2 linked regions of the Homo sapiens genome follow. The protein of the gene in region 1 purifies or fractionates together with the protein of each later gene. This does not show direct contact. Each region holds a gene or a part of one and is shown on either strand. Other genes may lie near its edges.

Region 1 (5,308 bases):
ATTTCATGCAAGGCCTTTGGGGCCTTCTGACATCTAGTACTTGTGCTGCCTTGTCTGGATGGAGGAGGGGAAAAGAACAAGAGCTCACTGAGTTAAGATCCAGGAGATACACGTTCTCATCTACTACCCCATGTGTCAGGCAAGAACTCTGTGGCTGCTGCTTCCCTCGTGTGGGCCAATAGCAAGTAGGAGCAGCATGATGAAATAAATAACTCAAAAAATAATCTAGATAGTTATCACCAATATGGGCCACACCCTGTGATGGGAGTTCGGGGTGGCTCAGATCCAGTGCCTTCGCCCAGGGGCTCTGATACAATGCAGGGGACAAGCAAAGAGCTACTAAGGCTGAAAGGAATAAGTGATGGATACTGATCAGGGCTCAGAGAGTGTCCACAGTGATGGAGGCATTTGAGTTGGACCTTGAAGGGTTTTTAAGAGGCAGAAAAGATGAAGGAAACATGAGCAAAGGCAGAACAAGAAAGTGTGTAAATGTTTAGAAGAATGGAAAGTAGCATAAAGAGGTTGGAGTGTAAGATGTGTGGAAGAATAGTGTAGGATGTGGGGCAGGAGAGAGAGGATCCAGATCATGGGGGGCCTTGAGTGCCACGCTGTAGAGTTGGAACTTTATTCTGTAGCTAGGGAAAAGCCATGGAATGGTATCTTAAAAGAAGATAAAATGGTCAGATCTGTGCCTGGAAAGGATACTCTGGCTGTCATGTGGACTGGAGGGAGCTGGAATTGAGGCAGTGAGCCCAGCTACCAGAGTCTTGAAATAGTTTAGTGTAAGATGCTGAGTCATGAATTGGGGCAGAGAGGATAACAAAGTAGGGAAGTGGGGGTAGAGACAGTCGTAAGACCTGAGGAGGAAATGGCTAAGTGAGGGTTGAAGGAGGAAGGGGCCTCAGGCAATTTCATAGGTAGACAACAAACAAACAGTGTAAGTGTCTTGATGAGCCTACTCTGAAGGAAATAAGTTCCTTTCCCTGGGTGGGCTTTGGTTTCCTCATCTACCAAAAGACATTATCATGGAGTTGTTGTATGGTAGGTATAGAGTTTCAATTTTACAAGATGAGGAGATTCTGGGGATCTGCTGCACAACAAGGTGAATCTAGTTAACACTACTGAGTGTACACTCAAGAATGACTAAGATGGTATATTTTTATGTTTTGTGTGTGTGTGTGTGTGTGTGTGTGTGTGTGTTTTAAGCACAATTTTAAAAAATAGGCCAGCTGTGGTGCCTCACTCCTTTAATCCCGGTACTTTGGGAGGCTGAGGCCAGTGGGTCACCTGAGGTCAGGAGTTCGAGACCAGCCTGGCCAACGTGGAGAAACCCCGTCTCTACTAAAAATACAAAAATTAGCCGGGTACACGCCTGTATTCCCAGCTGCTCAGGAGGCTGAGGCAGGAGAACCGCTTGAACTCAGGAGGTGGAAGTTGCAGTGAGCCGAGATCACACCACTGCACTCCAGCCTGGGCAGGAAAGCAAGACCTCTGTCTCAAAAAACAAACAAACAAACAAACAAAAAACCCCACAAAGAAAGATGATCATCCTTTCCCTCCTCCTTCAAGGCTTGCTATGAGCATATACTTGTATTATGTAGAAGAGGATTAAAAACTTTTTTTTTATTTTCAAGAAGCAAATATGTACACATAGGTTTAAAAAAAAAAAAAAAGAATGGACGCAGCACATACAGTGAAGGTGAAAGCTCCTAGTCGTCCCAAGCTCCATCCCAGGGCAGGGCAGTTACCATTCAGTTTTCTTAGGTATCATTGGAAAGGGGTTTTAACTGACAGGGAGAGGGAGGGAAATCTCAATCTGGAAGACTCACCAGACTGCTGGCAAATCCACTGGCTCTCAGTCAGTTTCAGGAGTCCCTTTGTGGACACACTAAGGCTCCTCCACCCCCGAGCCTCTTCAGGATGTCTCTGGACACATCTGGGATCTCAGTATTGACTTCGGAGCTGGGAAAGCCCAGAGCTAGAAAGCAGGAGAGAAGGCAGAAAAGGAAGGAACCAGACACAAAGCACAAACTTCAGAACCAGGGTGGATTGCCCAAGGCCAGGCCCCAAGGATTATGCAACAGTCCTGCTGTGGGCTCTGACCCCCTCCCATGGCCCCTCCCCTTCCTGCAGCAGCTGGGTCAGGCCAGCCTAGGGTTGCAGTTAAAGGAACTGTGCAGTGACCAAAGGGCCTCTGATTGCTGTCCCCTACCTCCAGACTTACAGTGTCTTCACTGGGTGACTTCATGAGAAACCTGTTTAAAATGTGGACTCCCACTCAGGGACCAGCTGATGGTGCAGCCTAAAACATTCCCTTTCCTAAGGGTTACCTTAGCAAGGTCCTTTTCGAATCCCAAGGGAATTGACATGAGTGGGAGAATGCCAACTGGCAGCTGGGTTGATATTTTACATAGGAACAAATGATGTGTTACCACCCAATCTATTCAGATAGACAGGATATGAACACGGTCACAGAATGAACACTATCTGTAGCATAGCTTTGTTGTGAAAATTAAAGAACATCATGTAGTGCTTGGCACTAGACACTGCACATACGGTGGTTGTTTTTGTAGAGCAAGGCTGGAAGGGCCTTCAGAGCCCATCTAGGCTATATGCCCTCACTTTACGGTGAAGGAAATGGAAACCAGGGGAGTTGTCCCAGCTCAGCTGCTCCTTGTGTGACTTTGGACATAAGACTTCCCTTTTCTGGGCCTCAGCTTCTGTCCGCATCTGTAAAATGAAGGGGTCTCAGTTGGTTCTAACGTCCTGTGATGATACGAATCATGAAACCATGCTGTGAGACCATGGGAAGTTGGAGAGGCTGATGGGAGAGGCATTTTGGGGGCTTTCTAGAGCTTCTCAAATCCCAAGATAGAGAAGGCTGTGGACCTCTTCCTCACAGGTTAAGATGCTTCTGAGCCCTGGGACTGACTGACATCTAATATCCCAGTCGAGCCAAACTGAGAGATTTACTCATTTTTCCTCTTCACAGCTCACCTGCCAGGATGATCTAGCCTGAGGAGGGGATAGACTCTGCAGAAGGTGGGGGAAGGGGACAGTGTGGAGGGTAGGGTGGGCTTTGAGGCAGGGTTCCATGAGGGGAATAAAGATTCATGAGACCTTTCATGCCTCAGGGTCTCTCTGAATAGACTAGGATGTTTGTGCTTCTGACAGGAGGAGGAAAGGGGCCATAGTTCCACATCTCTAGGTGCTGGGTTTGTATGGGAGGGAAGGCTGGGGTGCCAGGGCCTCCTGTCTGCGTTAGGAGAGGCAGAAAGCTGATGAAGGCACAAGTTGGTTCTCTATGGGGCTCTGGGGCTGCCTCTGGGGCTCAAGCTGGGGACTGGCAGTCAGCAACAGGGGAGTTTTGCCACTGTTTCTGAGCTCCTTGGCTTCCCTGTCCAGGAGAGTCCCTGATTACTGAGATCCTTGGATGGGGGAGATGGAGCTCCTGCCCTGGAGAGGTCTTGCCTTGAAATAGAAGATAGGCCAGTGAGGAAGGAAGGTGAGCAGATGGCCAAGCTGAGAGGGACTTTAAGGATCATCTAGAATCTAGATTCCAGGCCAACCCCTCCATTTCGTAGATGAGGAAACTGAGGCTCAGAAGGGAGAAGTGACTAGTCCAAAATGACATGGCCCATAAATGGCAGCACTCAGACAAGAACCCAGGTGTTTGGGCTACTGTTCAGGTGCTCTTTCCACTACAAATGGCAGTGTTTCCTCACACCTAAGCTTCACATCACACCAGACACAGCCTGTTAGTGTCATGGGGCATCATCTCCTCTAACTTCGTCACTATGGCCTTTTCATGCACCACAGATTCTCGCCAATCTTAGTCAATGATCCAGTGAGATGGAGGTTGGTAAGCTTGGGAGGAGGAGTTAGACTTCGTTTATGCTCTCATCTTCCATGCACCCCACTGCTCCAGACCTACTCCTGATTCCCCAGATGAGCCAGGTTCACTCTCTGTTCCTGCTATTTCCCATACATTCACAGGTTCTCACAAACTGCACTTGCCTTACACTTGTCCAACCCCTAACTTGGAAGTTGGGGAATAAAGCTGTGATCTGAGGGATGAACTGGGGATCTTAGTGGGGTTTTCATTCAGGTTGCTCTGGGGAAAAGTGAAACTCTACCCTTGGGTCTTTCTTTCCCGTCACTCCGTTTCAGCTACTCTTTCAGAATGAGCGTCTTCAGTGTCTGGAAATGAAGTACAGAGAGGTAGGTAGAAAAAGTCACATAAAGCAGGTAGGTGATCCAAAGACAGTTCCTGGGGTGCACAGTTTTACCACTGTCCCCTTGGTGGTCTTACCACTCCTGTGGATTGGAGAGCTGGTGGAGTGGGAGAGGAGTTGAAGGAGTAGCCCTTAGCATCCAGTTGGAAGGACAAAGGAATAGAATCTGAGCTGGAAGAGATCTTCATGATCATGTTGTTGGTGCAACCCCCTCATTCAACCAGTGGGAAAATAGACCCTCCTCCCCAAGGGAATCACCTGCTTAAGGTCTCACAGCTCAGTAGTGGCAGAGTTGGAGCCAGAAACCAAGTATCTTGACTTCCCCTCCACAGACCTTTCCACTATAAGTTCCCTTCTGCCAGTAGGGCAGACTCTAAACTCTTCTGATTACCACTGAAGCTCCTTGAAATGTGACTCTGACACTGGCCTCATCTCCCCACAGCTCTTTTCAGTGGCCTGCACCCATGACACTGAAGTACAGGCCACTCTCCAAATATTCCTTGCACTTGCACATCTCTTGCCTTTGCTCATGCTGTTTTCTTAAACAAGAATGCCCTTCCTCTTTTTACCTGCCTGGCAAACTCCTACTCATCCTTCAAGACCCAACTCCAATTCATCTCTGCAGACCTTCTCCTGGGACTCCTCCTTCCTCACTCCCTAGCCAGTTAGTCTCTCCCTCTTGTTTTTTCCCAAAAGTGCTTTGCACGAAGGCTTATTAGAGCACTATACTGTACTGAAACTCTGTGTGTGTGTGTGTGTGTGTGTATGTGTGTGTGTGTATGTGTATGTGTGTAACTGTGCGCTTTAAGGTAAGAGGGCAGGGTCCTGTGCCTCATACATTTCTTTATTTCCCAGCCCTGATACCTAGCAGGCATTCAAGAATAAATGAATCAATGCCTCTTCTCTAAGAGCATTCCCCCGCTCTGGCACACGCACATACATTCATGAAAACAGTTTACAATATTTAAAAAGCAACCTCCAGGGCAGGGCAAAACAGATTTCATTTGGTCTGGGGAAGGGATGGCTCAAAGAAAAGAAGCCATCTCAGTCAGGTGGGGTGAGTCAGAGGAGGA
Region 2 (4,509 bases), on another chromosome or scaffold:
CCAGGGTAATAGAAGAATCATCACCATGTGTATTAAGATGACAATGAGTTAAGACAGGAGAGGAGTTTTGTTGGAGAGGACAATGGTGAGTCATTAAATGAGAATAACTTGAATGGTATCAGTGAATAACAGCAACCAGACAAAGTGGGTGATAAAATTTGATGGCATTAGATCTACAGCTGGAGGGAACTGTAGGGAAGAGGAATATGTTAGATAACATGCAAAACCCATAAGATTAGCAAAACAGTTTTTCCTAAAGATTAAATTTTATATGCTTTCACTCTCAACATTAGGATACTTCAGTACAAGAGTTTAGAAGTAACAAACTAAAGTAATACTGATCGCTGAATTTCAAGTGAGCTAAAATTTCTCCTTCCCCCTAGAAACTATATAAATCTCTTAATTTTGAGGCCAGGCACGGTGGCTCACGCCTGTAATCCCAGCATTCTGGGAGGCCGAGGCGGGCAGATCACAAGGTCAGGAGATCGAGACCATCCTGGTTAACACGGTGAAACCCCGTCTCTACTAAAAATACAAAAAATTAGCTGGGCGTGGTGGCGGGTGCCTATAGTCCTAGCTACTCGGGAGGCTGAGGCAGGAGAATGGCGTGAAGCTGGGAGGTGGAGGCTGCAGTGAGCTGAGATCGTGCCACTGCACTCCAGCCTGGGCGACAGAGCGAGACTCCATTTCAAAAAAAAAAAAAAAAAAAAAGTCTCTTAATTTTGAAAGGGAAACACTTTCATTTTTCCTCTTTATTAATGGCAGATATATTTATTAAAGTGCTGGTTTATAAATAGGTTAGAGAAATAAAACAAGAAAAGAATCTCAAAATAATCTACTGAAGAAAACAAGGCAAGTACATATTTAAAAAAATATACCATGATGGGCACGGTGGCTCACGCCTGTAATCCCAGCACTTTGGGAGGCCTAGGCAGGTGGATCACCTGAGGTCAGGAGTTCGAGACCAGCTTAGCCAACATGGCAAAACCCCATCTCTACTAAAAATACAAAAAATTAGCTGGGTGTGGTGGTGGGTGCCTGTAATCCCAGCTACTTGGGAGGCTGAGGCAGGAGAATTGCTTGAACCCGGGAGACAGGTTGCAGTGAGCCAGACTGTACCACTGCACTCCAGCCTGGGTGACAGAGCAAGACTGTGTTTAAAAAAAAAAAAAAAAAAAAAACAAAACACCAATCACACTACTGGGAAAGAACAGTTATTTAGGGTATAGGGTGGATGAGCCAGGATATTTAAGATATGTTTATTATCTGAGAGAACAGTAAGAGGCCCCTTTGGAAAATGTCCTGAGAAAGCTGAGGTGAATGTGGGGCCTATCTCATGTGCTCACCCTGTCAAGGATCGTGGCTTTCACTGACTTACCCGTCCAATGCCACAGTTACCCATCCAATGCCACAGTAAAGGGAAGGAGTGGGGAGAGGGAGAGGCAGGGGGACTATGAGAAGAAATAAAGGCCTTTTCCCCGCTTACAATTCTGTTCCTAATAAACTCCTGATAAAGCCACTCATGAGATAACCAAGAGCTATAAAATGCAAGCTTACCTGGATATGGCACTCGGCCCTTTGTTACTAGTTCTGTTTGCAGAATTCCAAATGACCAGACATCAGACTTTATTGTAAACCGACCATACAGTGCAGCTTCAGGAGCTGTCCATTTGATTGGAAATTTTGCACCTAAAATAATGTTGACCATCTTGCTTAATTGTTTTTTAAAAATCTATTTGTGTAAACATAGCATATGCAGGGCTAATGTTCTGTCAATATCTCTACTGTAGTCATCAGTGTCAATTCTTTAAATGTACAAGATACATGGGATAAAAATTCTTTAATTTTTAAAATTCATATTGAAATAAATCACATTTCTTCCTGATTAGACAGCTGATGATATAAAAAATAAGTTGGCTGTGGGAACAGAAAACAATTTAAGAAAATAGAGGTTGAAGCTCTAGTAAGCCAAAGATACATGTTATAATATGTGTAACTTTTAAGTACAGTCTGGCACCTAATAGCTGTAGTTAACTATTGGTTGATGAGTGAATATTCTATTGAGTTATAATGTTTATGGGTTTTCCTACTTTTTATATCATTCTGGAAAATTTTATTGTACTACTTTTAAAAGTCCATGTTAATTAACTCAAATACTTACTGTATATCTTTTTTGTGGAGGGCATTATGCTAATCACTATGGAAACCTAAAAAGCATGGCTTTCGGCCGGGCGCGGTGGCTCAAGCCTGTAATCCCAGCATTTTGGGAGGCCGAGGTGAGTGGATCATGAGGTCAGGAGATTGAGACCATCCTGGCTAACATGGTGAAACCCCGTCTCTACCAAAAATACAAAAAATTAGCTGGGCGAGGTGGCAGGAGCCTGTAGTCCCAGCTACTCGGGAGGCTGAGGCAGGAGAATGGTGTGAACCCAGGAGGCGGAGCTTGCAGTGAGCTGAGATTGCGCCACTGCACTCCAGCCTGGGCAACAGAGTGAGACTCCGTCTCAAAAAAAAAAAAAAAAAAAAAAAAAAAAGCATGGCTTTCATGAAGTTTATAAACTTATTGCAGAAATAATATTATAGGTGTCTTACATTCTTTAAGTTATTTATATGTGTTTGTAGATAGTGTTTTAAAACAGAGTTCTTTAGATATTTAGACAAACAGATGATCAATTTTCCTTGGCACCATTACAAAATGTTTTATTTAAAAAGTGGCAGGTGGTTGGGCACAGTGGCTCACGCCTATAATCCCAGCAATTTGAGAGGCCGAGGTGGGCAGATCACCTAAGGTCAGGAGTTCAAGACCAGCCTGGCCAACACGGTGAAACCCTGTCTGTACCAAAAATACAAAACTTAGCCAGGTGTGGTGGTGCATGCCTGTAATCCCAGCTACTCGGGAGGCTGAGGCAGGAGAATTGCTTGAACCTGGGGGGCAGAGGTTGCAGTGAGCCAAGATCATGCCACTTCACTCCAGTCTGGGCAAAAAAGCAAAACTTGGCCAGGCGCGGTGGCTCACGCCTGTATTCCCAGCACTTTGGGAGGCCGAGGTGGGCGGATCATGAGGTCAGGAGATTGAGACCATCCTGGCTAATACGGTAAAACCCCGTCACTACTAAAAATACAAAAAAAAAAATTAGCCGAGCTTGGTGGCAGGCACCTGTAGTCCCAGCTACTCGGGAGGCTTAGGCAGAATGGCGAGAACCCGGGAGGCAGAGCTTGCAGTGAGCCAAGATCGCGCCACTGCACTCCAGCCTGGGTGACAGAGTGAGACTCCATCTCAAAAACAAAACAAAACAAAAAAAACCAGGAGCAACTACAACATACAACATCACTAATCATCAGGGAAATGCAAATTAAAACTACAGTGAGACACTACCTTACTCCTGTAAGAATGGCCATAATGAATAAGTAAAAAAAAAAAACAATAGATGTTGGTGTGGATGTGGTGAAAAGGGAACATTTTTCCACTGATGGTGGGAATGTAAATTAGTACAACCACTATGGAAAACAGTATGGAAACTCCTTAAAGAACGAAAAGCAGAACTACCATTCAATCCAGCAAACCCACTACTGGGTATCTTCCCAAAGGAAATGAAATCAGCCAGGTGTGGTGGCTCACGCCTGTAATCCCAGCGCTTTGGGAAGCCAAGGCGTGTGGATCACCTGAGGTCAGGAGTTTGAGACCAGCGTGGCCAACATGGTGAAACCGTGTCTCTACTAAAATACAAAAATTAGCCGGGCCTGGTGGCAGGTGCCTGTAATCCCAGCTACAGGGGAGGCTGAGGCAGGAGAATCATTTGAACCTGGGAGGTGGAGGTTGCAGTGAGCTGAGATTGTACCACTGCACTCCAGCCTGGGCAACAGATTGAGACTGTGTCTCAAAGCAAAAAAAAAAAAATCATTATATGAAAAAGATACATCCACAAATGTTTATAGCAGCACAATTCGCAATTGCAGATATGGAGCCAATCTAAATGACCATTGACCAATGAGTGGATAAAAAAAAATGTGGCATATATACACCATGGTATACTACTCAGCCGTAAAAAGGAATGAAATAATGTCTTTTGCAGAAACTTAGAGCTAGAGGCCATTATTCTAAGTGAAGTAACTCAGGGATGGAAAACCAAATATTGTATGGTCTCACTTAAAAGTGGGGCTAAGCTATGAGGACACAAAGGCATAAGAGTAATATAATGGACTTTGGGGAGTAAGGGGGAAAGGTTGGGGGGTGGATAAAAGACTACATGTTGGAGGTGAAACCCCGTCTCTACTGAAAATACAAAAATTAGCTGGGTGTGGTGGTACGAGCCTGTAATCCCAGCTACTCGGGAGGCTGGGGCAGGAGAATCGCTTGAATCTGGGAGGCGGAAGTTGCAGTGAGCCGAGATCGTGCCGCTACACTCCAGCCTGGGCTGGGCAACAGAGTGAGACTCCGTCTCAAAAAAACAAACAAAAAAACCTACATATTGGGTACAGTGCAAGATGCTTGGGTGATGGGTGCACTGA

The links.
Region 2: the proteins of KCNE3 (region 1) and YES1 purify together in Homo sapiens (co-immunoprecipitation; 2 studies listed by BioGRID and IntAct, with this or other methods). This does not show direct contact.

The regions. Positions count from the first base shown.
Region 1 is NC_000011.10:74,460,126-74,465,433, forward strand, and holds part of KCNE3 (potassium voltage-gated channel subfamily E member 3), read right to left. Parts: exon of another isoform or gene 4,137-5,308; intron 2,731-4,136; exon of another isoform or gene 2,557-2,730; intron 2,008-2,556; exon of another isoform or gene 1,979-2,007; 5' UTR 1,830-1,978; intron 1-1,829. UniProt on the Homo sapiens protein: Ancillary protein that functions as a regulatory subunit of the voltage-gated potassium (Kv) channel complex composed of pore-forming and potassium-conducting alpha subunits and of regulatory beta subunits.
Region 2 is NC_000018.10:731,277-735,785, forward strand, and holds part of YES1 (tyrosine-protein kinase Yes), read right to left. Parts: intron 1,690-4,509; coding exon 1,558-1,689; intron 1-1,557. UniProt on the Homo sapiens protein: Non-receptor protein tyrosine kinase that is involved in the regulation of cell growth and survival, apoptosis, cell-cell adhesion, cytoskeleton remodeling, and differentiation.